6 separate regions of the Homo sapiens genome follow, and regions 2, 3, 4, 5 and 6 are each reported to be linked to region 1. The links are microRNA targets in miRTarBase. Many come from high-throughput screens and were not tested one by one. Region 1 holds a microRNA gene; each other region holds the end of a gene's coding sequence. Distances are between the middles of the regions.

Region 1 (5,351 bases):
GTGATGCAATCATGGCTCATTGCAGCCTCAACCTCTTGGGCTCAAGCAACCTCCTGCCCCAGCCTCCTGAGTAGCTGGGATTACAGGCACCAGCCACCGTGCCCAGCTCACGTATGTATTTTACAAAGATTAACTGGTGGCTATAACAAAGCTAGACTAATGGCGAGGGGTGGGCCCAGAAAGCTGTCTAGGAAGAGCAGAGAAAGGGATGGATCCTAAAGAGAGAATTGAGAGAGAACAGCAACAAGTTGTGCTGAGTATGGATGTGGGTAAGGGAGAGGGAAGAGGTCACAGACCTCTGGTGTTCGCAGCTTTCACCATGGGGCAGAGCAGGGAGAGCTGGCTTTGGGGAGAAGGCAATGTGGATGGCTTTGGTATATGCCTAGTGTTCCATTATTGGAATGCTAAGCATGTGGGAGTTGTCTCCTACTGCTCAAGGTCATTGCCAAGGTCTGATGGCAAAAATTCAAAAAATTGCAACCTCAAGCATAAATGGATTAAATTGAGACAAGTTTAGAAGAGCAGGCTGAACTATTATACTTAGGAGCTACTAAAAATATAAAAAGCAAGATGTCTCAAAAAATATCCCAGGCCAGACCTCTGGTTTGAGGGAAATCAACACATAGGGATGTATTTGGAACCAGGGGAGTAAATAAGATTACTTAGGGAAAACAGCGAATAGGTAAGAAAGCAAAAGACAAGAGTTTTGGGAAAATAATAACCATGGGATAGAAAAAGATGTGGTGGAATGATCCTGATTCTCGTTGGATTTGTGTGGTAGACAGAATGTTTTGGCTACAAATTGCATGTGTTAGCCCCGAGGAGAAAAGGCCTTTTCCAGACAAGTGACAGGCAGGAGGGAAAAGGAGGGAGGCAGTGTGAGAGGGCGGGAAAGCTTAAGCAGGGTAGATAGAATATTAACTCTTGATTGTGAGGCCAGTGGCTTTTCCAGGCCAGAAAGAAAACAGAAGGACAAGGCCCAAATTCCACCAGGTGCCCCTGCAGTTCTCCAGGACGCCACATGGGGACAGCAGGTGGCCGGTCTGTGCAGTACCTGTGTTGGGAGCTGCACACAGGGGCCCCTGGAGGAGGAGCGGCCGAGATGGCTCATTCTTGAGCCTTTTATTTTATTTTATTATTTTTATATTTTATTATTATACTTTAAGTTCTAGCATACATGTGCTTATACCCAAAGGATTATAAATCATGCTGCTATAAAGAGCCTTTTATTTTTGCCTCTTAGTGGACCTAAAAACTCAGTATTGTTTTTGGTCTAATGACTTCACTTCTAGTGAGGTTGTGTTAGTCCGTTTTGCGCTGCTATAAAGACATACCCGAGACTGGGTAATTTATATAGTAAAGAGGTTTATTTGGCTTACAGTTTTGCAGCCGTACAAGCATGGCACTGGTACCTGCTCGGCTCCTGATGAGGCCTCAGGATGTTTTATACATGGTGGAAGGCGGAGAGGGAGCAGACATGTCACATGGCGAGAGAGGGAGCAAGAAAGAAAGAGCAAGAGAGAGGAAGGAGGTGCCAGCTTTTTTAAACAACCGGCTCCCTCTAACTGAGCAGGAACTCGTTAAGTGAGGACATCACCAAGCCATTCACAAGGGATCCGCCCCATCACTCAACCACCCCCACCAGGCCCCACCCCCAATACTGGGGATCACACTTCAACATGAGATTGGAGGGGACAAACATCCAAACCATATCAAAGGTATACTCTAGGATCCTAGTTCAAGTAGCACCTGCTTTTGTTGCTTTGCCTTCTAAACTGAACTGACACATATTAGCACAGTTCTGTCTCAGCCATAGAAACCCAGTTTCTCTGGACCATTTTTCCTTATGTAAGAAAATGACCTGTTTAACCATGGAGGGAACTCCTCAGCCAGCTAAGAGAGGAGAGTTCAGAGATAGCTGGTGCAGCTTCTCATCAACAACAGAATTGACTCCCTCGCTGCTCCTTTCCCATCATCTAAGCCAGTCATCGATTTTCCCCAGGAGTGTTTCTAGGTATCCGTCACCAAAACAAAACCCCCACCAAGTCTATGGAATTTCTATAAAGTATAACCATTCATGATATGCTAATAGTGAACCATTTGTTAGTATTATACCACATGCAATTCAGGTCAGTGAAATTCAACTTAGAAACTGGAAGAAGAAAAATCACCTTTGCATTATTGCTTTGCATTTGTTTTCTTAGTTCTTGTCCATGGCCCCAACGGTCACCAATACATTTCCTCTCAGCAGTCAGCATCATGGTGCTCTTCCCCAATCATTATAACCGATTTCAGATGGTGCTAGAAAATTATATTGACTCTGAACACCAAAAGAAATCAGTCATCCTCTAAGGGGTCACAGAAGGTCGTGAGGGTTGGGAGGGCCCAAATCTTACTAAATCCAGCATACATTGGGCTCTTTAACCCAGGCACAATGGAATGAGTCTGTACTATCTATTAAGTGCTATAGGTTTATTCCACAAAGAAGTATAAAATTCCAACAATGCGATATCCTGTACAATTACATTCATCCCTTGGTATCCTTGAGGGATTGGTTCCAGAAAGCCCCTTGGATACCAAAATCCACAGATGCTCAAGTCTCTGATAGAAAATGGTGTAGTATTTGCATACAACCTACACACATCCTCCCGTATACTTTAAATCGTCTCTAGATTACTTAGAATACTTAATGCAATGCAAATGTATGCAAATAATTGTTATGCAGTATTGTTAGAGAATAATGACAAGAAGAAAGTCTGTTCATGTTCAATACAGACACAACTTATTTTTGGAAAACTTTCGATCACAGTTGGATCCGCCAGTGCAGAGACCTGACTGCCATTTGTGATATATGCCACCACTGTTGGCAGGGGTGAGGAAGGGGTCAGCTACATGTGAGGCAGGTTCTCACAGCCATCCTGCTGTTGCTTTCAAATACTTCAGAGCTGTCCCATTCACTTCTTTTGCTGTTGGTAGTGCAGCGCAGCTGGTCTCCCCCAAGAACACTGATTTCAAATGGTGCTAGACAATCACTATTTAAATCTAAACCACCATATGAAACCAGCTTCCTGAAGAAGCTTTATGATCTATTTTTTTCTTCATAATGCTCTCTTACAATAAACCCAAGACAACCTAGAAAGGAAAAGTTGAAACCTAGCTGTGAGTTACTCAGTGGTCTAAACAGAGCTTTGGCAAATTTCATATATTCATAAACTGATGTCACTGAATTTGTTATTGATGGGAGAGCATGCCTGGGACTCCCTTATTCTTAAGTTAAGTTGCCCAGACAAAGGTTCAGCTTCATCATTTAGAGGCAAGGGCACATGTCAGCCCCGTCACTCTTGGGTGGGAAGACAAGGAAAATCCTTTGCTTGGGTAAAGGCAGGAGAAGTCAGAGGCATCCTGTGATCAAGTACCCAGGCAGGCGGAGGACGACTAGCAGTGGTGCTGGAGAACCGTCCGTCGGACATGCAAATAGGACAAAGCAAGCAAGTGCTCCATAGAAGTTGAAGAAAAACGCTTTCCTAAACCTATTATTTTCACTTGGAGATAACTTGGATCCAAAGGATTACTGAGATTTTGGGGTCTAGGGAAGAAAATAGACTAGCTCAGAGGCCAAGTAAGTCACATAATGGCACTAATGAGATGCTAATGTCGCTTCCGGAATGAATTCCTTAGACTGCATCTATGAGTTAGGGGTTTTTGTGAGCTTTACTTAAGACTCTCCTTCCCTCTACTCCAAAGGTAAGGCTTTGTACTCTGAGTTCTCCTTGGCAAATTATTTTTTGCAGCAGTTCTTTTTCGCCGTCATGGTATAGTTCTTGGTATCATCTTATTAGGTGGCCTGTTGTCGTCCCTTTTTGTGTTCTAGGCATCCAAAAAGATACTTCATGTACCCAGGCCACCTAATTAAAGGGGTGTGCACTGTTTTTATAAACTGTTATAAAAAATTTTATACATTAAATTGGAATGACAATACAATGAATTCCTAAATCCATACTATCTAAATTCAATAACTATTCCTTTTTATCATGTTTTGCTTTAATTATATGTAATATAGATACATATTTTTTGCTGCATTGTTTGAAAGTAAATTGATAACCACCCATACATACACTGCTCCTAACTACTTTGAGGTCGTTCTATAAAATGAAGACACTCTTCTACATAACCACAAAATCTTACCATACCTAAGAAAACAAACAATTCCTTGGTACCCACAAATATCCAGCCTACATCCAACTTCTCCCACTTTCTCCAAACAAAAGGTTTTTTATAGGTTTTTCAAACCCAGATCGCATCAAGGTTGATTCACTAAGACTCTTTGGTCTCTTTTAGCCTCAAAACACTACCCAACCTTTTCTTTGGCTTGTTTTATCATGACATACCACCTTGTGAAAACCAGGCTCCAATCCTGGCTGTACCATTCACTTAGTCTGTTCCCTTGGCTTGTATTTAAGAACTGAACTTTAGTTTCTCCGTCTGACTTTCCTCATATATCATCCTCATTTTACAATCTCACTATGTGTATTAGAAGAACATCCAATTACCACGTGCCTGTGGTTGATGATTCCAAGTGGGTTCAGTGCTAATCAGTCAGGAGGTGCACTGCAGGCTGTTTACCTTGGGTCTGATTAGCATAACATTCTTGTTCCTCATGGGCTTGGCCAGTTATCTTTTCATAAGGAGATCCCAGCACAAACTCATCCTTTATCATCATGGAGAAGCATCCACAGCACATACCTATTGCTGCTAGGCTGGTTTTTAAAAAAAATCTCTGTGAATAAGGGAATAGAACACCAGGGCTATGGAGATGCGTGGCAATCATTTCATCAAAGATGTAAACAGCTTGTTGACTGCAGTGAAAGGCACATACTTTGTGAAGTGACAGGCAGTGACACATTTCAAGTGGATAGTAAATTTAAGCACCAAAACTGGGAAAAGTGCCAGGACAGAAGAATCACTGCAACTCTCAAATAATGGTTTCACTAATTCTGTGATTCCTTTAGGGACCCCCTGCATCCTTCTGTATATGCTACTCTAATTCGCAGTATCAGTGACTGAAGTACAAAAGAAGCAGCCAGATTATTCTCATCAGTTACAAAACTCTAAAGTCTGCTTATTTTTGATAAATAACTAGTCACAGTGTTTGCCTACTGCCTAGAAGTTTTTTCAAATGATTGACACTTCAGTTATGGGGAAAATTTTTCCTGAAGAATGAATTTCTTTTACTTATGTCTGATAAGATCATATATATCTCATACACCAAATACATCACACACACTATATATTCAACCATGCCCTTAGCAGGGCCAAACAAATATGCTAAGTTTTTTACATTGTCTTTATGT
Region 2 (5,351 bases), not on the chromosome of region 1:
CAGCACACCAACATGGCACATGTATACATATGTAACAAACCTGCACATTGTGCACATGTACCCTAAAACTTAAAGTATAATAAAAAAAAAAAAAAAAAAAGGAAGTTGAAATGTAATCACTCTTCTCCAGGTCACTGGATGCTTCCATGATTTTTGGTTTTGTTTTTCCCCTTCAGAAAATCTTGAACTGAGTAATCAGTATACGTTAAAAGAAAAAGATCTTATATATAAGAGATATGTACATTTGAAAATCTTAATAAAAAGATAATTTCCTACTAGTGTTAAAATTAAAGTGCGAGAGGAAACTGTTAACAGCAAGCTACTATATCTGAGTCTTAACACTTCCTGTCTACTGAAAAACAACATTAATTCAGAGTATTAAAAATTAAATAAAACATGGAAAGCAGATAACACAAACTCTGACATATTGTATGAACTTAAAAATATACCCAATACATTTTTAATTCCATAATTTTAAGGGAGTAGTCCTATACTGCCCAGTACTCATATGACAACTCTTTCAAATGGACAAGCTCCTTAGTAACTTAACATCTATACTTTCTACTAATATTAGACTTGTTTACCTGCCAAGAATGTATTCAATTTTTGAATACCAGCAGAGTAGAAATCAGCCTCTTAAAAATCTGATAATGATGCACAGAGGTCCCAAAGGGCAGGAAAGTGAAACTTTTTTCCCTCACAACCCCCTAACGTAAAAACAAAACAAGATTATGAGGTTATAACATAAAAAAACAAGATTATAAGATTATAAGATTGTTAAACACATTTGATAAGATTTTCATTTTGAAATGTCACATTATTCTTTCTCCATAAGTAACATGAAAAATTGGCTAGGTCCATTAAATGAAAGCATATTAGATGCATTAAAGAATCTGATGTAAAGCAACAAAGTTATAGTCCAGCCTGCACCCCAAACACTAATTTCTTCCCAGCATTTCCATCAGGAAGCTTGCCTTACCAGGTTTGCGTTTCATTCTCATTGGATTATTCTAAAAGTAGATGGAACCTACTGCTAGTACTCAAGTATTTACTGAACCACATACTTCCCAAAGTGTGCTGATTCCTTTCCATGGCTACCCCGAATGGAAAAACCTGTGCTTCTCACCATACATTCAGATATGGCCCCTGGTCCATCACATGAAGCCACGTGTGCTCTCTTAACTAGTGCCTGGGATGCACAGTAGATCCTTAATGTTTGGATTTTAAGAGATTACAACCAATCCTGATTGAAAAAAATGAAGACTGCCTATCTGTAGGTAGTTTTGAACCCAAGGCTTTGCCCCTATGTCTACCTTTTTTCTTTCTTTGCAGTACCCAGGCATTTTACCCTCTTTGCAGCCTTCTCCCTTAACATTCAGGTATTGCATCCGTCAGTTTCTCTGCAAAACAAGAGTAGGCAAAGCTTGTCCCTGCCTTGCAGTGAAGGCTTGCACCAAACTGGGGATGCCACCCTAGGCATTGCAGGGAGCAGTGCAGGCACTCCACCTCCACATGGCCACCTACCTTCTGCCCTACTAGACCACATATGAAAGGTACAGTAAAAGAAATTATCCATTAAATTCATATTTGAACAGAAGTATAATTAGGTATCCTCTAGTTTTTACTGCCCCTTTTAGATAAAAGCAGGTTATTTTTGTTTTGATTCTAGTCATGTGAATGAAAGTTCCCTCACTTAAATATTTAATACACACACACACACACAGAGTACTAGACTAGGGGTACAGTGGTGAACAGACAAATAAGGTCCTTGTTTTCATATGGTTCTCAGAAGGGAAGTGTAAACAACTACTCTGTAGAAAAGGGTTTTCAGGCACTTAGAGCTTCAATCTTCTTGTCTGGTCGTAAAAATCAGACAATCTGTAATAATGTGGATTGTTTAACCTTACGAGTCTTCTAACAAGTAATCAGAGTACCCAAACAGGCTTATAAATGTAAAAAACAATCAAACCAACCAAAAAGAGTACATTACAAATGAGGCCATTTCATTCCTTCCTTCATTCTAAGTTCGAATGAATTTATCAGCTAACAATCCTCCGTTTCTAGGAACCTTCCAAGATTTGTCTTAATAGCCAAAGAACAACATTGATTTTCCCTTAACCCTTTTGTCCCAATTGTCCACAGACAGAACTGAAGTCCTTCCTAGGGACCTACTTCTCAGTTACCCCCAGGGAATCCCCTGACAAAGATGCTCCTCTAATTGAGGCAGGCTCAACCCTTGGCCAGCACCAGGGTCTGTGCCTCACTAGCTCATTCCCCTCCAGGCAGCTGATGGAAACTTCTCCCCTTCTACTACTGATTCTCAAGAAGCAGTCTGGAAGCATGGTGGACAGAATGCGTTTATTTCTCCAGTTTGGCCTATTTTAACTCCTACATACATGAACAGCCAATACAATTAAAGTAGAAACACAATTTTTAATATTCCTTATCACAGCCATTTGAAGCTCCTTTCTGCCCAAAAGGTCTAGACTGCCAGCAGAGGCCCTGAGACAAAGGCACTGCTATAAGATGCAGACTGTATCATGGCACAGTGGGAAAGTCACCATGTGCAAAATCCACGGCTTGCCTGCCTCTATGCCTCAGACAGGAACAAATCATGGGATGGATCTGGGATCTATACAACAGCTCCATGAGGCAGGACAATCATATGAGGTTTTATGCTGAATTACACCCATTTTCCCAATGAGGACACATAAAACCTCCCAAACATGTGAGAAGTTTCAGACCCAAATATAATAAGTGATGTATAGGCATGTGACCTGCGAAGTGAGTTTGTCAACCTTGTTTCACTTGAGTGTGAAAAATGCTTTATAATTTTGATAATCTTACCTTCAGCAGCTTTGTAAGAAATAACTTGCTCCAGGGGCCGGGCGCAGTGGCTCATGCCTCTAATCCCAGCACTGTGGGAGGCTGAGGAGGGCGGATCATGAGGTCAGGAGATCGAGACCATCCTAGCTAACATGGTGAAACTCCGTCTCTACTAAAAATACAAAAAAATGAGCCAGGCGTCGTGGTGGGCGCCTGTAGTCCCAGCTACTCGGGAAGCTGAGGCAGGAGAATGGCGTGAACCCAGGAGGCAGAGCCTGCAGTGAGCCGAGATCGTGCCACTGCACTCCAGCCTGGGCAACAGAGTGAGACTCCGTGTCAAAAAAAAAGAAATAACTTGCTCCCTTAAGGCCATTTCAGTTTCCTCATTCATAAAGTGAAAATACAAACTAAAGCTCGCAGGTTTTCTGATCCTGCCACTTAGAGAAAAAAGGCAAGACTAGGACACTGGTCTCCTGGAGTCCAAGGGACAGTGATTTGCCCAGCTTGTGCTCAGAGAGGGAACGGCAGTGGGGTGGCTTGGGCAGGTCTGTGTCCCCCTGCTGCACTGAATTTCTCTTGCCAGGAGGTCAGAAGGTGAGAGTCACATAAAGGTTGCTTAGTTATAGCAAACCTCAGGGGAAGCATCCTCTGACTGGCCTCAGCACAACAACCAGCTCTGGGTATGCGCAGCATTTTTTTGGCCTATTGGGAAAGCCCATCTAATGGTGTCCTGAAGACTGTATCTACTTCATCATCCTCACTGACTGAACTGTGACACCGGACGGGAATCAGGGAAGAGGGTGGTTGGCTACTACATGGACAAAGTCCTGATCCTTACCCCAACGAGTCACCTTAGAACTGCTCTGATCCTCACCATCAGCCCTGTCGTGCTTCCCTCATGGGATGCAATGCTCATTTGACTGGGCCTCTGCTTTTTAAAATAAGTGGTTTCATGACAGACTTCAGCCTGGTAGCAAAGACCAAAGGATCAGACAGAGGAATCCTTGGATACTGGGCTCAGCTCAGTTTCAGGGGATACCTGTCAGTGGCTCGGTCCTCCAAGCCCCATGGGGGCCAGGCCCAATTCCAAGCCTCTCTGGTTAGGGTGGTAGCTTTCTTAGTCCTCCCCATCCAGGGAGCAGATGGCCAGAGGAGCAGTGTTGTTGGTTCCAATGCTGTAGCAAGGACTAAAATAGGGCAGGAGGCGCCCAGGGAAGGGATAGCGGGGGAAAGTGAAGATGTGGGAGCCACAGTCAGTCACATTGTAGAAAGAAATGTCATGGGCCTCATAATCCACGAAGATTCCCACCCGGCGAGGAGGGACCGGCAAGGACAGGATTGGGTACTCATCGGTGCCTGCTCGGTACTCATTTCCCTTCCTCAGCCTTATCACCCAGAATCCATAGTGGGGGGATAAGTAGACCACCTCCTTCCGGTCTACATTTTGCTTACATACTCCCAGGCCCCACTCAGACCTGTCTCCCACCTCCACCTCCCAGTAGTGCCGGCCTGAGGAGATGCACTGGCTTCCCAGGACGATATTATAGCGGTAAAATCTCTCAGGATTGTCTGGCAGTTTCTGGTTGGTGTCTCCATAGTGCACACGTTTTCTGTCCTCAGACACGATGAGACGGGAGTAAGCAGTATCTGGATCCAAGCGCACATCAGCTAGAAGAAAAGGTCCTGGTTGGTAACAGTGATATAGGGCCAGGGGACATGGGTGAGAGCCCTCTGATAAATTCAGCCACAGATTTCTCAATGATGAAGGGGTGAGGCTGGATGGAGCACCCAGAGGGCACTGAACCATTTTCTATCTCTGGGAGGGGTCCCTCCCACTGTCCACTACAGTCTCCCCCAGGATCCATTACCTGCATAAGTCTTCAGGATCTCTCTTAGCCCCAGCACACGGCAATCTGTCTTCAACTCCAGGGAGATTGGTTCTGGCTGCTGCAAGCTCCAAGATTTGCTCCTGGTAGAGGAGGGTGAACCTCAGGGCCAGGAGTCCCGGCTTTGTCACATGGGCCTTATCTTAGTACAGGGAAGAGGGGCTTGGCCAGGGACATAGTGAACCCCAGCAAAGCAGAGACATGATGGTTACGGTTATTTGGCTGAGCCTCAAGCTGTTTGTGTGCAGAGGTGAGAACACCTGCATGCCCATGCTATGGGAAGGGTTGGATGTATATTTGATTCTGGGAGAGGAAGAAGTGCACACATTTTCTGTCGGACATGAAGGAGTCATGGGCAGTCTTTTATCCTCTTTGAGCAATCTACTTGAAACCACATATTTTACAGCTTCACTTGATATACATTTGATCAAGTACAAAGAAGAAAAAGGAAAGATCAACAAAGATTCCTTAGCCATTACCATGTAAGTGGGACGAGACTGTGGACCAGCACCTGCTTTTCTGTGTGCACCGAGTCTGTGCTCCGTCCCTACTTCTGGCTCTAGTTAGGCCTCACTATCCCCTACAGGGCTGCTTAGAGGCTCCAAGGGTGAGAACATACCTGTTTAACACTTCCTGAAT
Region 3 (5,351 bases), not on the chromosome of region 1:
ATTTTTCAATACATGATTAAAAGGTGTATTTTAGGCCAAGCGCAGTGGTTTATGCCTGTAATCCCAGAACTTTGGGAAGCCAAGGAGATCGAGACCATCCTGTCTAACGGTGAAAACCCATCTCTACTAAAAATACAAAAAATTAGCCAGGCGTGGTGGCATGCGCCTGTAATCCCAGCTACTCGGGAGGCTGAGGCAGGAGAATCACTTCAACCCAGGAGGTGGAGGTTGCAGTGAGCTGAGATCGTTCCACTGTACTCCAGCCTGGGCAACAGAGCGAGTCTCTGTCCCTGCCCCCGCCCCCGCAACCCCCGCAAAAAAAGTATATTTTGAAAGTCTAAACAAGCTCCTGTGATGAGGAAAACATTGTGTCTACTTAATTGACAATGTTTTTTGTCTTTGTAGTTCACAGTTGTGCACCCTACAGTTGATTTCCTCTGTGAAATACAGTATTTGTTTCTTAAAAGGCAAAAATCTTAGTCACTCAGAAACAGAAAGTAAATGAACTCTAAAAGCATTTCTGGGTTGTTTTTTTGGTTTTGGTTTTAGTTGTTTGTTTTTTTGAGGCAGAGTCTCACTCTCTCACCTAGGCTGGAGTGCAGTGGCGTGATCTCGGCTCACTACAACCTCTGCCTCCCGAGTTCAAGCAATTCTCTGCCTCAGCCTCCCGAGTAGCTGGGATTACAGGTGCCCACCACCACACCCGACTAATTTTCTGTATTTTTTTGATAGAGATGGGGTTTCACCATCTTGCCCGTGCTAGTCTTGAACTCCTGACCTAGTGTTCCACCTGCCTTGGCCTCCCAAAGTGCTGGGATTACAGGCGTGAGCCACCATGCTGGCCATCATTTCTGTTTTTAATATCTGCAGTGCCTCAAAGTGTTTACATTTTATCACTCTGTATCCATCATCCTTAATGCTTAAAAGCTTTAGAAGTATGTTATACATACTTCTGCTGTAGCATTTATTTTCATATTTGTAGTCCTAGCTTTGCTGCTAAACCATGAGCTCTTGGAATGCCAGAGGCAAAGTTATCTTGCACGTCATTGTATTCTTAAGCACCTAACAGTATGTCTGGATGCCTTTTTTCTGATTGATATTACTTCTTGGCCAGGATAGAGAAATGGTTAAGTTCTCACATAAAATTGAAGAGTTTTCTCAGTTTTGAAAAGCATATTGGGTAGAAAAGAAGAATTTCTTTGGAAGCATTAAGGACACTTTGTATTGTCATTTTCTTAGACAGACTTATGGTTCAGTCACCATGAGTTATCATTTCTGTATGCCTACTCATCTTAAGATTGTCATACCTTAATCCTAATAAGAGAACAGCTCAACAAGTAGGTAGGTGAGATTGTTACTGGCCAGTATTGGAAAAAACTTTATATATATATATTTTGTGTAGTAGGCAGATCTCAAACTGACAGTATGCTGCATTTTGAATCTGGAGATAAAAGTTGCATTGATGAAAATGGAATTTAATAGTTTTCCTAGAAATAATAACACATAGCAAAATTTTATATATGTGAGGCATCTTATATAAAGGGACTTTACTTGAGTTGGTGCAAGTGAGTCATTCTAGCATTAGGGATGGGGCAGAGGTAGTTATCTTTCCTTTGAGCAGTGGACCCAGGAATATCCAGAAACAGATGGTATGTGCAGAACAGGTTGTACAGGCACTGTTTTAAGCACAGCTAAGTAATACCATGAGTGAAAGTCTACTTTTACCTATAGTAGAATCGTGTTGCTGATTTTTGTGGCTTCTGTTTTCTTTTTTAGGATGTAGAACAAAAGAAGAGTGGAAACTACTTTTTCTTGGATGATTAGACTGACTCTGAGAATATTGATAAGCCATTTATTAAAAGGAGTATTTACTAGAATTTTTTGTCATATAAAACTTGAATCAGGATTTTATGCCCCACATACTCTGGAACTTGAAGTATAATATACTTAATATAACATAAAAAGCCAGTTGGGTTCTAAATTGTAGTTGAAACACAGAAAATGCCACTTTTCTGTTCCTGAAGAGGCTCTTTTGTGCATAATATTCTAAAATGAAGACATTTCAAGCTATACAAATTACTTCCAAGTTTTCATGATGTATGGGAAGATTTTCAGTAGGTGTATTATATTCACGGTACCAAATGCTGACCAGTGTTGCTCCATTTTTTAAATCTTGAAAAGGGTTTCTGTACTTACCTGGTTTGCCAAGTATGCCAGTGTAATGAAACTGCCCTTATTTTAAAAGCCAGTCAAAGATTCCACTGATTGACATTTGATAAATAAACATCAGGATTATGTTTATTGTTTGTTTTCAGTCTTTGCACTATATTACCAGTATATGGTTTCCGAGGAAGATTATCTACTGCAAAACACCACTGTTGGAAAAATAGGTATTTTTAAATTGTTTTTAATCTTTTTTGGTGCTTTTAAACATGTTTAGCAAAAACCAATTCAGTTCCATTCCCCGCAAAAAACCCCTAACTTTACTCTGAACTTTTTTTGTTTTTGCATTCCATGAGGTTCTGTATTCAGTCATTCTCTAGGTAATGTCATTTTTGTACACATATATTTATATAATCACTGATTGAGATTTAGGAAAAAGCATTTCTAAAGAATATTTGCTTCCCTTAGAACTACAGACTCGAAATCTTTAAAGATGGTGCCTAAGCATCTATGTATTTTTTTTAAGTTCCACAGATTTTTCTGTTGGGCAGCCAAGGATTATAAACCACTTCCCTAAAGGCAACATTAATGCAAAAGTCCCCAGATGGCAATACAAAGTATCCCCTGGTACCACATATATTCATTTGTGAGTTTGGATATAGAGCACATTATCTAAACCATTTTGTAGTTCCAAAAACCCATCTAAATTTCTTGAGTTCCTGAATTTTGAACAGGATTACCTGGAGCCTGGAGCCACTTTAAGTTGTACTTCTGACTAAACTGGAATTATGAGTGAGGAAGAGTGTTTACTAAATAAATGACTGGGGCAAGCAAAATTGAGGAGGAAATTAGAAACTGTTTGACAAACTTTAAGAGCTACTTGAAATAACAGAAGTCTTGATTAATATGCAAATAATGGCTAGAAAGTATGGTTTAACTGGACCCTATTATGCCTTTTAAAAATAATTTCAGTAACCCATAAATACATGTTGTAAAAAATTCAAATATACAGAATGGAATAAAAAAATGATCTCCCTTTATTACCCTCCCAAAGGTTACCAGCGTTTGAATTTAATAATGTATATTCTTTCATGCTTTTTTCTGTGCACTTACCTAAGTGTGAATATGTAAAGGGTTTGTTTTGTATACAAATGGGATTATACTAAAATAAGTAATGCCTATTTTTAAGGATAGGTTAAATTTGTGAATGATCATTTCAAATATATTGAATAAAATAAGCAAAAGCTATTGTTATTTACTGATCCTGGATTGTCTTAAAGAAAGTACTTGTGATATAAGAGCACAGTTCTACTTACTGCTAATGACAGAATATGTATTAAACGTATTTTCATGTAAATGAAATCTTTAAAATATGTATCTTAAAATTTTACATAGCAACAGAAAGGCCTACAATTGCTAACACAAGAAAAATACTTATAAAATCAGTATAAAATCAATGCAGATGTTAGCAAAAGAATGAGACTACTTCATATGTCCTAATTGGAAAAAGTCTCAAATACTTAAAAAAACAAAAAACTGGAACAGTTTATTATACTACCATTTTTGTGAAAATATACAAAATATTGAAATAAAGGAATACTCAAGAAACAGATTGCTTTTGACAAGGACAATTTGATCAAAGAATAGACGGGAAAAGGAGACATTTATATATACACATATATAATACCCTTTGAATTTTACACTTTGCATGTGATTATAAATCATTGAAATTTTGGGGGTTTTTTTTTGTTTGTTTGTTTTGAGATGGAGTCTCGCTCTGTCACCCAGGCTGGAGTGCAATGATGTGATATTCACTCACTGCAACCCGCCTCCTGGGTTCAAGCAATTCTGCCTCAGCCTCCTGAGTAGCTGGGATTACAGGCACCCACCACCACACCCAGCTATTTTTGTATTTTTAGTAGAGACGGAGTTTCACCATGTAGGCCAGGCTGGTCTCAACTGGACCTCAGGTAATCCACCCGCCTTGGCCTCCCAAAGTGCTGGGATTACAGGCATGAGCCACCGCGCCCAGCCATTGAAGTTTTTAAATCGTCATTGGATAATAATAGTGGCATCTGTAGCCACTTCTCTCCACATTTGAGATAATACTGGATAATCCATATTTTCTGTGTTCACTTAGTGTAGTCTTAAAGGCAGTGTATTGATGCTACAACTGTTTTTTGCAATTTAGGTTAACCTAATTTTAGACTACAAGCATTCTGAAGTCCAGTCTTGTATCTGTCTTAACACTCAGTATATATAGCATGGTGTCTGGCATGTAGTGGCCTACTGTATTGAAGGAATGAACCTGCATGCCACAGAGAAAGTAGGAAGACTACAAAACTGCTGTGTTGTATAATTTCCTTCATGTTCATCAATATACTTGGATACAGGTATGTCAAGTCCTTAACCCCAGTGCCTAGTCTGCTGTGAGCACTCAGTGAGTGGTTCAGAAGAGAAAGTAATCATTCTGAGTTGGAATGTCAGAAAGGACTACATAAAGGAATTAGGTCCCAGGAAAGAGTAACAGCACCCATCTTACTGAGTTGTTAAAAGGATAAGTGAGATAATCTACCTAAAGCAAAATACATGTCTGGTGAGAGGCAGAAAGGAACATGGGCATTTAAGAGATTAATGGAAGGAAATGATGGATATGGGCAGATTGTGATGAGCTTTCTGTGCCTTCCAGATTGAAGTTAGTTTTTTACATGCTGAAAGTAGTAGGACTTGAAGAGACAAAGCAAGGCCAGTTAGAGAAGCGGAAATATCCAGACAGTAGTTGTTCCGGAGCTTCTACTTTAATTTTTCACCGCTTTGTCTTAATTTTTTTAAGCATTTCTACTCTGTCCACTTAATACATGCAGGTCTAAACTTGGCTGTATACTGTGCTGACTGTTGCTCTTGGAAGATTGTTTCCTTTGTAGTGTTTCAGTTTGTGAGCAGATGTTCAGTGAGGCTGTATCTGAAAATTCTGAGATTTTGTGTGGCAAATATCATTTATCCTCAGCCCTGTACTCACCACCACTACCACCTCCTCTGCCAATGCCCAGTCCCACGTGGTTGGTCATAATTGGTCTAAGACATAGAAAATCCTCTTCCATACTTTCCTAGTCTCTTGCAGTTAAGCCATATGACCTAACTGCAAGAGAGTTCTAGCCAGTAAATTGAAACCTCTTGAGGTTTTTCTA
Region 4 (5,351 bases), 18 Mb from region 1:
CAGTCACATGCTGCCATGCCTGGCTACGTTTTGTATTTTTAGTAGACATGGAGTTTCATCATGTTGGCTAAGCTGATCTCGAACTCTTGACCTCAAGCAATCCACCCACCTCGGCCTCCCAAACTGTTGGGATTACAGGCATGAGCCACCCAGAAAACTACTGAGATTCTGAAACAAATTTAGAAAAAAGCATACAAACCAAAGTTTAAGGTACATTTAAAAGGCTTTCCAATTGTTGAGATTTCCATTTCTCTGCCAAGAGAAAAACAGGGTTTAGAAAAACCAGCGTATCTCCTTTTACGCATTTAGAGATCTTTAAATTGTTAGCTATTGTAGCCTGCTTGTTCACTGGGTTTTGTAGTGTGTATATATATAGGCCACCACTAATATACTTCGGGAGCTTTGCATTCACAGTAGCTCATGGATATGACTTTAACATGAATTATCATACTATCATGGTTATGGCAATTCAGTTTTTTTTAAGAATAAAGTTATTATAATACAAACATTCCTTGTAGTAAATGTTTGTATTATGGGTTTTTTTTTTTTTTTTGTAACAAAGAATTTGTTTTCTACCTTTGTTATCATTTAACAAGCAATTTACAAAACCAAGAAGGAACCAAATCTTTGATTTACATTTCTGCTGACCTAGTGTGTGGACTCTTGCAGAGGAATAGCATTGCTGCATAGTGCTCAGAAAGTGTGGGAAAACGGAACAAAAAGCTTGAATCCATTTTTTTTTCTGCTTTTACATCAGAATTTATATTTAGGTTATACTTTCCTAGAGGAATGAACAATACATCTCTCTTATCCACAATGTGTAATTTGCTAGTTTTGTGTTTAAAGCTTTTCTTATTTCCTGTTCTACTTCTGTGAATTAAGGATTTTAAGCAGGGGCAAAACTGTAGCATCAGCAGGTAATCATTCTTGGATACAGATACTAAGTACATGTAGCATGCTTGTCTTCACTCTTAGGTCATAAGCTCCATGAGAGCAGGGGACAATGATCACTCCAATCCTTGCTGCTTTCCCAGCATATAGCACATGGCAGAATTCAAACATTTGTTTAATAAACAACAACAACAAAAAACCTTTCATATCATGAGGAAGACATCTGCTGTCCTGAAAGAGCTGATAAATTATGTAGCTTACTTAAAAAAAAAAAAAGAATATGATATGGTTGACATACAATAAAGTAGAATTTATGCTGTTGCCCTGCTTCTGCCATAAACATGACAAAACATGACAATGGGAAGTCACCTGAGTTCTCTGGATCTCAGTGAATAAATTTATGACATTAAGGGATTTAACAAAAATGAAACCCAGTGGGAAAATTGTACAAGTCACTCAAGTTCTAAATTGCTTCCCAATGCTGAAATCACTTAGTGAGATACATCAAAGACCACAGAACTTTCGGTTTACAAGTAACAGACAAAGAATACTAGAAAATTTAAAATTTTTAATAAATGTGCTTTGTTCACAAAATGTGAAAAAATACAACAAACACACACGTACATTTTCAGGTATGCTACCTCCCACCACTTGGCAACTATGGTAAAACCACATGATCTAGTCATGATACTGAAGAATCCAACCAAATGATTACCATTTGTTTTTGAAACAACCAAATTATTTTGGAGAACCAGCTGTGAATGTGACAGGAGGCCTCATAACTTCTTTATATCCAAAATGAAATAATTCTTAGGAGTACCCATACAGTATTAGAAGGCCCTATTAACTTCCACTTGTTATTACATACATGATCTGGCATCAAGCTGCAATGACTGCTTATACTTCAATACTTATACACTGAATTGGTTTTTGTGGAATGTGTATCAGTTTAAATCTGTGCCAACCTAATTGGAATAAGCTGAATTTACAGTAACAAATGATATAAATTCAAACAAATTTATACTAAGTGGTAGTAGGTTTTATAAAGAGACTTCCTCAGAGTACTACGTAAAATACATCATGCACACTTTGGAGCATAAGCAGAATCAACATCTGTAAACAATCAGAATTTATAGCACCAACATTTTCGCTGTAACACAAAGGCTGACTCCAGGGTCATACTATACCAGCCTTTCAAAAGCGCTGTTTTCATTTACTTTCAAAGCATTTTCATTTGGTGTATTGTTTTCTTTGCTCTTAAGATATTTACCCAAATCAAAAAGCAAACAGTATGGTAAAAGGTACTACCAAAATAGTTCAAAAGAGTTCTGTATTATCCTTAACATAGTGCTTTTTTTTCCTTCCCCTTCTCTTGGGGAAGCTACAAGACATAATCCTTCAGTGCTTAACTGGAAAGAACAGTCAATCCTAAATATTAAAGAATCTTATGCTGTTGAAAGTAAATGAAAAATTTCGAGTTATTTGTGGCATATTTGAGCAACCAATATTTATTGCATTTAATCAACTGACTTTAAAAAATTACAATCTTGTTACTTTCATTAATTTAGCATGTGAAATTTAATTAGAAATACTGGGTACATACACTCAACCATTTATATCATAAAGGATAAGTTTTATATTTCTAAATAAAGTTTGACATTCAAAGGTACTACGGCAATTCACAATAAGCACAAAAACATCAGCTTTACCAGAGTAAAGAAGTGCAGTTTATGAAATTTAGGATCAACTATTGAAAATGCAAGTTTCCTTTAAAAACATACAAACATACGCACAACATTAACCATGAAATCTGAAACTGTGATATTTCAGTGCAAAAACCTCAGTATGAGGTAATTTTAATGTAATAACCACTTGAAAAAAAAATCCACACAGTGGCACTCTTAAAAATGATAGCTTCCATGACAATTGCTGGCTGACAAGACAATGTGGACTAAATGTTCTTAACTGTTTAAACTAATCTTGTCTTGTTTGGACATATATTTTTCCCTAATCATTTGCTTCTGATTCAGAAACACAGAAAGGCATTTATTAATGTGGAAAGGGAAAATTCCCACAGCCAACTAATTGATATATTCAAAGAAAATTTTCTGATAAAGTTTAGATAGAAATTAAGATACCAAAAGGTCAAAACCATTTTATGAGATCACCAACAGAGGGTTAATTTTAGGTTTTTCCATATAATTTGAAACTTGTAGTGCGGCACCTCCTTAACGGAAAGGTGAGGACCCTATCAAAGTTGGTTTCAACAGAACATAAACTCTCTTCCAAGTGCAAACCCTTTCAAAAAGGTGTTTTAGGTCATTATTGAGTATTACATTGTTCCTTGCTTAAATAAAACATTTTGTAAATGAAGCCTAAGTTTAAGAAAAGTAAAAGTGAACTCTCAGGTAAATATACTTCACACCAAGGCCCAAATCAACAAGAAAGTTATGAAAATACTACTTTGGCAATGGTGTTTATTGGATAGGGCTAATAAAATTAGAATACACACTTTGGGGGACATCTCTCCCCCAATGTCTGATGCTGTCAAATGAGCTTTTAATATAAGGAAGAAATAAAAAGAATTATCACCAATTACAAAAAGTTCAGTAAATATTGGATCATCAGACAAAAAAGGAACATAAAATGACTTTCTGTAACATCACAATTTTAGTTAGAAAAAAGAAAAAGATAAGTGCATCACAAAACAACTAACCGATCTATTTTTCTGTATCACATTTAACTTGTGAGTCATCAAAGTGCAATCTACAGCTTTCTACATCTTAAAGTTTTCCATTCAATGGTTTATAGTCAACACTGAAAAGTTGAAAAGGAAAACATATAGCAAATTATGCTTGTTTTCACAATAGCACTAAAGAGAAAAAGGTACCTTTCTATGATAGTGCTAAATGCTAAAGTAACAGTAGTTTCTGCTATGACATGAGTCACTCTGCATGAAACTTTAAGCTTTCTATATAAGAATAAATTTTAAAATTGAGAAGTAGAAAAAAATAGCAAACTCTGTAAACCTCTGCATTTCTTTTATGCAAACCAGGTTTTCAGTACTGAGTTCATGTTAGTATTTCCAATTGGTGTAAGCAATTAGTTTAGGAGCCTGGACTGAAAGGGGCTTTTTGCTTCTATATTAACTTAAAAGTAATATGGGGTCTTCTAGCTCATAGAAAGGAATAGAGCTGGCTTGACTTTCTCCAGAATCTGAGTCATATGGCGCATCAGGGAGTTCTGTGAAACCATATGCTAGTTGTTCATCTTCTATATCTGATCGAACATAGCAGGAAGGGTTAGAATATTCCTCATCTTCTATACTGTTGAAATCTTGAGGAATATATAACATTCCTGGGTAGTTCCTACTAACCAAGTCACTTGTGGTTTTTAGAGAGATTTTCCTAAATGCCATCAGATGCATATGTGAAAATTTTGAGTACTTGAAGCGTTTAAAGCCCAGGGACTCTATAGCAATCTTCCAGCTTTTCATCATCATAGCATGACGGTTCTGATGGGAGGAATCAGGTGTGATGATTAGTAATAAACCATTTAACACTAACAGTTCATGGGCTTTCTTGCAGCAAATCCATCGCTGGTAAGGAGATGGAAAATAAGAAAGAAGGAGAGAGAAAACAACCACATGGAAAAGCTCTCCAGGAAGAGAATCAATAGGGTTTTTCAGCTGCTTCAAAAAAGCATCTATAGCATCCTGTGCAAGCTGGAGTGGTTGCTGAAGCTGTAAGTTCAGGAAATCACATTTATAGACACTCTGCAGAAACAGAAAACAAGGCATATTAAGAACTTCAAGATTATTTCCACTTTAGTACATAGACTTTTCAGCAAACCATTTCACATATCATAGTAATTCCAGCATTGATTATACATTTTTCCTTTTAAATTATTAAACTTGAACAGATGTATTCAACCACAACTTTTACAAAAATCTCAAAGTAATTAAGTCCAAAGACCTGCTAATCATCATTTAAATATATGTTTTTTGCCTAACAATTTAAAATGGGAAATAATTTGTGTATTTTGGGTTGGGACTTACATGAATTTTAATTTGGGTAGGAGTTTACAGGAATGACATTTCTATTTACATTCACTTTAACATTTACAGTTACCAAAAACAAACTAATATAAAAATGCTAAACAAGAAATACCATGAAATAAAGATGAATCAAATAAAGAGGATAATGAAAGAGGCATTATAAAATTTGTACAAGCAGAATGATTCCAAAACTTTAGTTCTTTGAAACTGTTAACTTTAACCATTTAAAAAGTAACCCTCAACATTACTTTTATTCTATTAAAAAGTTAATCCCTAGTTTGGAACAAACTAGATTTAGTTAGACAAATGACCATGGGAAACAATACAACAGAGGAATGAATAACATTATATAATTTGCTAAATCTTAAAACTATGGAAATGAATCAGAATAAGCAATTTTAAA
Region 5 (5,351 bases), not on the chromosome of region 1:
TCATGCCATTGCACTCCAGCCTGGGCGAGAAACTCTGTCTCAAATAAATACATAAATAAAAGAAAAAAATTAAATAATAATAATAATAAGAAGAAGAAAACAGCCCCAAGAAGCCCCATCCTGCCCACCCCCATCCCATTCACCCCTGGAAGGCAGAGATGCCCTTGAGGACTGTCCCAAGAGCAACCCCTTGAAAGGCCCGGGGTTGGGGGGGTCTTTCAGCTAGCTACTGAGAGGTGGGAAGAGGAAAATTCTAGGCATCTGGTCATGTTTAGAAAGAGGTTTGCCTCCTCGAACAACATGGCAGGGCCTGTACAAACTACTGACCTTCTTCCTTCCACATCACCCTTTCCTTATCTCCCAGTCTGGTGACTTGTCTTCTCCTTTAGTGATACCTAATTGGTACTCTGTCAGAATGGGGGCCCTGTCCTCTGGTGGGTGCTGGCTTGAGGTCTCCTGGCCTGAAGGTGGGTGGGAAGACCAACTGAAAGAAGTCCTAGTTTTCTTAGCTATATGGGGAGAAGGGAGTATCAGGGCCTGCCAGCCCTGGAGGGAAGCCCTGTGGGGCATGACTCCAGGTAGGTGTGAACACCATCTGCCTCCCTCATCCTCTTTCTCTGAACAGACAGACAGGGATGGGGCTGACTGCACTGGTGGGCCGGCTGGGGGGCTCTTTGGCCCCACTGGCGGCCTTGCTGGATGGAGTGTGGCTGTCACTGCCCAAGCTTACTTATGGGGGGATCGCCCTGCTGGCTGCCGGCACCGCCCTCCTGCTGCCAGAGACGAGGCAGGCACAGCTGCCAGAGACCATCCAGGACGTGGAGAGAAAGAGGTGTGTGCACAGGACTGTGTCTGTGTACGTGTGATAACATGCATATGGATGCAGGTGCTCAGATACCTGACACCTTAGGATTCAGACAGGAAACTATATCTGCACATGTGTACTTGGTGCATGTATGTGTGCGTGCACAGGTGAGTGTTTCAGGGTGCATGATTGGGGGCATGTAAACTGCAAGCATAAATGTGTACATGAGTGTATGAACACAAATACATAAGGTTGTTCAGGAAGATGTGTATGTGTGCACACTCAAGTATGCCTACACATCAGGGGTGTGTACAAGCATGTGTGTGAGTCACTTGTACAGGCGTTTGTATACCAGGAACTGGGGTGAGCCCTGGGACAGCCCTGATGGGGCAGGCTGGGGTGGTAGGCTCGGGGATTAAACCCCACCATTGCTCACAACTCCTTCCTCCCTAGTGCCCCAACCAGTCTTCAGGAGGAAGAGATGCCCATGAAGCAGGTCCAGAACTAAGTGGGAGTGGAGGCAGGCCCTCCACAGAAGCTCTGCAGCAGGGGCTGGGAGAGCAGAAGGGCAGGCCCTGCAACTCAGGCTGGGAGTATCGAACCCTCTGCCTAGGGCCGGAGTTGCTGCCAGTACCCGCTCCCTCTGCTCATCCATCCTTGATTATTTGGCTTCTAGGAACAGTTGACTTCCCAGAATGCAGTGGGCTGCTGGGCACCCCTCTCACGGTTGGGGAGGATTCTGTAAATAAAGGTGCCCCTTGGGTTGGGGCAGTGGTGACGAGCTGTGGGAAGAGCCCTGGATAGGAAGCCACTGAGTCTGCCCTGGGCTCTGATAAAACCTTCACCATTAACTTGCTGTGTGACCTTGGGCATGTGGCTTTCCCTCTCTGGGCCTCAGTCTGTTCATCTCCCAAATGGATAATGAAGCCTCTTGGGAGGCCCTACCATAGGATCTGTTGCCATGCTCAAATGAGTTACTGAATAAGGTGCTTCTGCTTCTTCTAGAGATGGTGCTAAAGAAAGGACTAGCATATGAGACTTCTGGTACCAATGGGGCTGGTGGGCATGCTGTCCACTGTGTGGTGCTAGGACTGCCAATGCCAGGCCCAAGGGACAAAAAGAACAGAGCTTTTTGTTCTCATGGCTGGCCCTGCTACCTCCGAGGCACCCTGCAGGGCAATGCATGTCATCCCAACCCCCACACTCCCCATCCTCCAACCCACTGGTCTCATGCCCAAAGAAGAGTTGAAGGCATGGGAGCCAACATTTTATTGAAGAAGCCACAGAGGCTGAAATTCAATAAACACAAGTTTTATGAGTACCTTGAAGCTCCAGAATGTGCTGGGGAAAGGGGTTGTGATGGCCAGGAGGAGGATACCCTTCAAAACGGGCTGTTCCCTAACCAGATAGAAATGGGAAAGGGAAAAAATTGGCAGAGAAAGTCTAGACTCTCTGGCCTACCATGGAGCCTAGGCCCAGGCCCCCAAGATCCCACCTTCCCCAACCCCCATGGGACTGGAGATTTTTGTAGCTTCCATTGGACCATGAGGGGCATGATGGGAGGCCTGAGTTAGGGTGACCTTTTTTGTGAGCGTCTCATTTGAATTTTATCTTCACTGGGTCATAGATGTAGCAGCCCACATCGCCAATGTTCACACCTGAGAGAGAGAGCCCTATCACCAAAGGCCCTGGGTCTGTGGTGCAGGGTTCAGGCCTAGAGGGAACTTGGTGGGGGGGCCAGGGTATGCTTAACCACAGGGGAAGTTGTCCACACATACCCACAGACCATGTACATGCCATACTTCAGGCATGTACATGCCATCCCAGTGTCTGGGATGGGGCTGCCCACCTTTGGGGCCAAACAGGTAGCCGTAGCAGGGGACGTGGCAGTAGGGGACTCCATCATGCTGAGACACAGAGAGAAAGAGAGCTGTCTCAGCCTGGTTCTCTTCCCATCTCCAGCCTCCTCCCAACATAACCACTCATTCCTGCCCTGCTCACCTCAGCATGACTCCCAGCAGTCAGGGTCTTGTGGCAACGCTGGCACCTCAGACACGGTCGGTGCCAATTTCTGCCTAATGACATCACCTTCTCAGCTGGTGGTGGAAAGAAGTGGTAATGCTTCCATTCTAGGGGTAGAGTAGGGAGACCTACCTGCCTTGGATCACCTCCCTCCCCCTTGCTGCCCACCCTGTATCCCCCTCCCCAAGTTTTCCACTGTTACTTACCAAAATAGACGGGCTCCCCACAGCCAGGGCACAGCGAGGTCTCCCCAGTGAATGTCTTCATATGGGGAGGGCCTTTAAAGGGGAAGAGGCCCTGGCTATGTCTGAGGTGGAGATGCCCACCAGCACCTGCCTGCATATGGTGCTGTCCTCTTTCAAAAGCCATGCTCATTCCAGAGTGCCCCACCCAGGCGCCCAAGAGTCTGCCTTCTACAGGCCCAGAGCTGAGCCCCCTCTGACTCCACCTCCTGCCCCATCCCTATGTGTATTAGGGACTATCTGCTTCCTTCTCCTGCTTCCTTTTCATCCTCCCAGGGGCTCACGTACCCACCATCCCAACCCTGTTAGCAACTCAATCCTCAGGAAACTTGAGCTGATATAGGAGCTGGCCACAGCACGGGTGTCAGGTGTTGGGGAGCACAGTGTCATTGCCTACTTCAGGGAATGGAGGGAAAGAACAGGGACCAGAGGAGAAAAGTTGAAGAATATGAGAGGCTGGCCTTATCCCAATGACTCCTCTCCTTTAGATCATTCCTTCCATGGCCCTGGCCTGGGACAGACCTAAGTTCCTGGCCAGCTTTGCCTCTGACTAGCTTTGTGGATGGACAGTCATTTGCCCTGTCTGGATCTCACTTTCCTCACCTGTAACACACGAGGAGAGGGGATAATGCCATCTGCCCAATTAACCTCTTTTTTTTTTTTTTTTTTTTTTTTTGAGATGGAGTCTCGCTCTGTTGCCCAGGCTGGAGTGCAATGGCATGACCTTGACTCACTGCAACCTCCGCCTCCTGGGTTCAAATGATTCTCCTGCCTCAGCCTCCCAAGTAGCTGGGATTACAGGCATGAGCCACCACACCTGGCTAATTTTTGTATTTTTAGTAGAGATGGGATTTCACCATGCTGGCCAGGCTGGTCTCGAACTCCTGACCTCATGATCCACCTGCCTCGGCCTCCCAACAATTTACCTCTTAACTCAGCAGCTCACATGAGGGAATAGAAAGAAAGAAAGAAAAAAAAAGCGGGGAGTAGATAGAGAAGACTTTGCCAAGAATGAAGTTGTGAGAATGTGAAGCAGAGGGCTGGATAGGAGACTGCCACCTGGCCCAACCTCCGCTCCAGCTTGGGGAAGGGTCGGGAGGAGGACTGGGAGGAGCTGAGCCCAGCCTTACTTTTCTTGCCTTGGGGGAGGCCAGTCCTTGGCCTGGGAGGGCTGAAGCTGCTGGGGCTGAGAGGAGTGGTGCAGCCAGGGCTGGGAGTGGGGGGATTGTACAAGTAGGAGCCTACACCACCAATGTTCACCCCTGAAGAGAGAATAGGGGAGGTCAGGCTTGAGCCCCCAGCTCCCAGCCACAAGGAGGGTTCTGCTGACCCATGGCCCCTTAAGGCTGGTACTTACCCCTGGGTCCAAAGAGAGCCCCATAGCATGGCTTGTGGCAGTATGGCCTCCCATTGTGCTGGGCACAAGCAGAGGGAAGTGGGTTACTCAAGGCCAGCGGGAGCCATGCCCCACAGGCCTTCACCCCAGACAGGCTGCCAGGTGTGTCTGTCCACTGGCTGAGTCTGGTGGGCCTGGGAGGGGTGGGGGATGGGCTGGCATGCCAGCATTTCCACTGTGGTCAAGGGAGGAAGAGCAAGAGCAGCTCAGAAGGTGACGCTGCTTCCCACTCACCCTGATCCCCAAAACCATGGGATCCACAGTCACGACCCAGGTTCCCAAATTCCTGGCTGGTGTGGGGTCCACCAGGTGGGCGGCCTTGGGGTTGGCTACTGAGGTTCCCTTTGGCAGGCCTCCAGTGCTGAAGTTGGGGGCTGGTGCCTGGGGGGTGGGAGGCAGTGATGTAAACAGGGCAGTGCTCCCTGGCCAGGTCTTACCTCTGCATGCCCGCCAGGGGACAGGATGCTGTGGCAGCGCTCACATTTCAGGCAGAAGCGGTGCCAGTTCTTGCCCAGGGAGCTCACCTTCTCAGCTGTGGAGGACAAAGTGGAACCGAGCTGCGAGGAGCCTGTCCAAGCATAGGGCCCCTCCTTTCCCTCTTCGGCCCTCTAGGGAATTAGGTTGGCCTGCCCTGCTTCCTGGAGATGAGTGTCTCCAGGAGGCCAGCTCCATCCCGCTCCGGTTTCACACTCCCCACAGAGCTCTCAGAGGAAGGGAGAAGACCCGAGTGGGAGCGGGTGGTGCGGAGACTACCAGCCGCTGCAGGTGAAAAGGGTGTCTGGGACTACACTGTGGCTAGCCCTCCGCGTCCTCAGGGAATCCAGCGGCTCCCATTCGCCCCATCTTCTCCCCCTCCGCAGCCCGGGCCTCACCGAAGAAAACAGGT
Region 6 (3,000 bases), not on the chromosome of region 1:
CCTCCTCAGCACAGCTGTGGCACCGAGGGAATCTTGTGATGGTTTCTCCTCCCAACATCCCCTCCCTTTAGCCTGAAGTTGTAAAGCATTAAAAAGTCAAATGGAGGAAGATGGTGCACCTAGCATGGGGCCGTCGGGGGTCAGGGGAGGATAGAGAACAATGTTCCTTCATTTTGAAAGGCAGAGATGCTGACTTGTTCAAGGTCCCAGTTAGTCAGTGATCATGACACATTAACTATTGTGATAACAAGGAGATTTATCTCCTCTAATTATGACATATTTCTTCATCTCATTCAATTACTCATTTTGGAACAACCCTCGCCCTGGTTTATAAATGCTCAAGGAAAATAAATGATTGCCCAGATGGTGAAACAGGGTCAAAGCAAACAAAATGATTCTGGAGGTTCAGTGTAGCCCTGCATTAAGTATGTTGTATGACTTGGCAAAAACCACTCCACGGCACTCTCTGCCTCAGTTTCCCTATCTGGGAAGATTTTCTGGACAACAGAAAATACTATATTTTTTTTTTATCAAATGCAAAGGTCCTAACTATAAGCTTGGTATGGGGTTTCGGGCTTTCAGGTACTGACCCCATTTGAAAAAAAAAAAAAAGATCTACACGTAAAGAAGAGGAAGAAAAAAGGTGATATTTTTCTAAAGTAAAATATAATTTTTAAAAATGAAAGCTCAACTTTGTTACTTATGTTTTTCTGAGCAAGCAAGTTAGCTATGGATAGCTCATTGGAATGTTTTTCTCAGCTCTTAAAGTAGCAACACAGGCAGTAGGAACTGGTCTTTCCTAATAACGTCCTCATTTCTGCAGTGTCGAGACTTACACCTGGAACAACAGATCACTGCTCCAAGTGCTCCACAGGGGACAGGGCCACCTGGCTCCAGGGCTGTCTGTCCAGCTGGGATTTACATAATAGGAAGGCCCCGGGGAGCCTGGCCAGCTCCCTGGCTACCTCTAGCTGCCGCTCCCTTTCTCTGAGCTCTACAGTCTGAAAGCATCTGTCAGCAGCACTGGCTGGCAGCCTTTGCACCTCTGGCATGAATACAGGCAGCTGAGGTTGGGAAGACGGAAGGCAAATAAATAGCACAGCAGACAGGCCCTGGTGTGGTGGGTTCACGAAGCAGAGAGAGACGAGCCCAGATAGTCCCCCAGCGCTAACTTGTTCCCGAAGCCGCTGCGTCCGACAGGAACACGTGGATGTCATTTTACTGCCTGAATGTTTCCCCAGGGAAGGCAAACATGATAAAGAATTTTCTTAACTCAGCTTTTCCTCCCAGTGCTAAGCATGCCTTCTCATTTCACGCGGGGGCTGCTCTGGTGTCAAGCCCCGTGGAAGAAGCCTCTTGTGAGGCCAGCCCCAGAGCCTTGAACTCTGGCCTGCATCGAAGCATTCCACTTCCCCGACCACAGTCTTTCTTTCTCTGCTGTTTCGCCCAAGCGCTCCCGGTATCCGTCCGCTGAAGGGTGACGTTCATTGACTCTGGAAGTCCCCTCTCATCTTAACCTTTTCCTTAAGGCATCAGGTTTGTCCAAGTTTTGGAACCAAAGCCCCTGTCCACGAGCTGGTTTCCTGACTTTTTTTCTATCTGACATGAGGGAAGCTGGAAGTCCTAGATTTCCTAAGCACCGACACGCTTCCTGCTATAGGTGGGCTGGTGGACCTGCTCTGAGCCGGCTCTGCCTCCCGTCCTAGCACTGTGCACATGTAATTGATCACCTCCTGGATGACCACAAGGAAAAAAGGTCTGGGAACTATGACAAAGGCTGGAGAGCTCCAAGTAAAAGATGCATCATTCACTTGGCCAACTCTTCGTCACCAAGACATGCCAGTAAAATCAACCACATGGAGTTGTCCTGTGTATGAAAAGCCCTTAGCTTATTGGAACAAATTGGAGAATAGCCATTAGCAAAGTCAAGTGGTTTACAAAGCCCATTAGAAAGAGATCAGTATCTGAGCTGTAGATGTTTCTATTTTCAATCAAATTTCTTTTTAATGAAAACTAATTTTTAAGGGCAAGATACCACAGCAGAAGAAAAACGTCTTGCAAGAAAAGACTTCATGGTTTACAACGATCAAATGTATGGGCTATTTGCCTGATTGGTGGCCTGGACTCAGCAAGAGATTCCTTTGCAGCAGAGGTTGGCCACACATCTGGGGGCTGCAACACCACTGAAAAGACAGCTTTCTAAGCATTAGTGTAAGGCAAAAAGCAGAGTGCCTAAACTTGTCCATTTCCACCAAGAAAAAAAGTTTCATAGCAACCTTCCTTCACCAGAAAGGCTTACTTTATGATATGCTAACAGAACAGAAAAGCAGGTTGGGACAAGATACAGACTTTGTTGCATTTAGCTATGACCCTTCTCTCCCCTCTGTGGATGTGGGCAGGGTGGGGAGAGGCAGGAAGAGGCAGTAGAGGGAAATGACATTTGCACTCAGGCTTCCCGCCCCTACCCACCCCTACCCTTCGCCCAGACAGACGTCGGATCTATGCTGCACCAGGGGTGGGTCATGGAGTCCAGCTAATTGCCAGGAGCTGAGGCGTGTACAAGCCATGAAAAGAGCTGCCCCACGGCCTCCCCACATCACTGTCCTTCATGCACTTGCATCTTTAAGGCTGCCAGCTTCAGAGCTCCCTGGACATTCCCCGGCCAAGTGTCATCCCTGTGTCAAATGGATGGGATGCCAGGTAATCCTTGTACTCCCCGTCAATCAGTTTGGCGGCATTGTTCCTGGCAAACCAGCAGTCTATCTGCTCTTCCCCGTTGTAAATCTTCCTTTGCTTCCAGACCACTGGGACTTGGTGGCCTTTCACTGTTAGGACGGCCTCAGGCCCCTCTCCCACCTGAAGGAGCAGAGGGTGAGTGAGGTTCTGGCTGGGCCCTGCAGGGTCTTCTGTGAGTCTGGCATCCTGATTCAGGAACTGACCTGGGAGGACAAGGAAAAGCATCGGGTCTCAGTCAAATGCAGAAACCTCGTGCTGAACTCC

Evidence for each region. The annotated mature microRNA hsa-miR-29a-3p reads UAGCACCAUCUGAAAUCGGUUA and lies in region 1 at 2,283-2,304, opposite strand. An mRNA with a match to its seed (bases 2 to 7 or 8) in the 3' UTR can be bound and repressed. Matches are read on the target gene's strand: a 7mer-m8 pairs with bases 2 to 8, a 7mer-A1 pairs with bases 2 to 7 and ends in A, and an 8mer does both.
Region 2: miRTarBase lists TRIM68 as a target of hsa-miR-29a-3p. The part of its 3' UTR that is shown has no 7-base or 8-base seed match.
Region 3: miRTarBase lists ABCE1 as a target of hsa-miR-29a-3p. Seed matches in the 3' UTR shown: 7mer-m8 at 2,419-2,425.
Region 4: the mRNA of SAMTOR is a reported target of hsa-miR-29a-3p. Seed matches in the 3' UTR shown: 8mer at 2,025-2,032.
Region 5: miRTarBase lists SLC22A7 as a target of hsa-miR-29a-3p. Seed matches in the 3' UTR shown: 8mer at 1,814-1,821 and 8mer at 1,886-1,893.
Region 6: the mRNA of ITIH5 is a reported target of hsa-miR-29a-3p. The part of its 3' UTR that is shown has no 7-base or 8-base seed match.

What each region holds. Positions count from the first base shown.
Region 1 is chr7:130,874,466-130,879,816 of GRCh38, forward strand. MIR29A (microRNA 29a) reads right to left here and starts at 2,345; the gene lies at 2,282-2,345. It overlaps MIR29B1 (microRNA 29b-1), which reads right to left and starts at 3,074; the gene lies at 2,994-3,074. It also overlaps a transcript of LINC-PINT not described here. RefSeq lists an enhancer at 805-1,099 and a silencer at 895-1,094.
Region 2 is chr11:4,596,333-4,601,683 of GRCh38, forward strand. TRIM68 (tripartite motif containing 68) reads right to left here. Exons shown (of 7, transcript NM_018073.8): 5 at 5,332-5,351; 6 at 4,695-4,795; 7 at 2,340-4,494. The coding sequence ends at 3,944. Among named protein-coding and RNA genes, the nearest start is that of OR52I1, 5.0 kb to the left of the region's middle.
Region 3 is chr4:145,125,750-145,131,100 of GRCh38, forward strand. It overlaps ABCE1 (ATP binding cassette subfamily E member 1), which reads left to right. Exons shown (of 18, transcript NM_002940.3): 18 at 1,777-3,775. The coding sequence ends at 1,824. Among named protein-coding and RNA genes, the nearest start is that of ABCE1, 30 kb to the left of the region's middle. RefSeq lists an enhancer at 383-622.
Region 4 is chr7:112,817,708-112,823,058 of GRCh38, forward strand. SAMTOR (S-adenosylmethionine sensor upstream of mTORC1) reads right to left here. Exons shown (of 5, transcript NM_152556.3): 5 at 1,440-4,666. The coding sequence ends at 4,037. Among named protein-coding and RNA genes, the nearest start is that of TMEM168, 30 kb to the left of the region's middle.
Region 5 is chr6:43,303,413-43,308,763 of GRCh38, forward strand. SLC22A7 (solute carrier family 22 member 7) reads left to right here. Exons shown (of 11, transcript NM_153320.2): 10 at 626-832; 11 at 1,259-2,126. The coding sequence ends at 1,313. It overlaps CRIP3 (cysteine rich protein 3), which reads right to left. Exons shown (of 8, transcript NM_206922.3): 1 at 5,338-5,351; 2 at 4,903-4,997; 3 at 4,427-4,484; 4 at 4,200-4,331; 5 at 3,034-3,105; 6 at 2,807-2,901; 7 at 2,655-2,712; 8 at 2,060-2,463. The coding sequence ends at 2,402. Among named protein-coding and RNA genes, the nearest start is that of CRIP3, 2.7 kb to the right of the region's middle. RefSeq lists an enhancer at 4,074-4,931.
Region 6 is chr10:7,560,446-7,563,445 of GRCh38, forward strand. It overlaps ITIH5 (inter-alpha-trypsin inhibitor heavy chain 5), which reads right to left. Exons shown (of 14, transcript NM_030569.7): 14 at 1-2,939. The coding sequence ends at 2,638. Among named protein-coding and RNA genes, the nearest start is that of LINC02642, 89 kb to the left of the region's middle.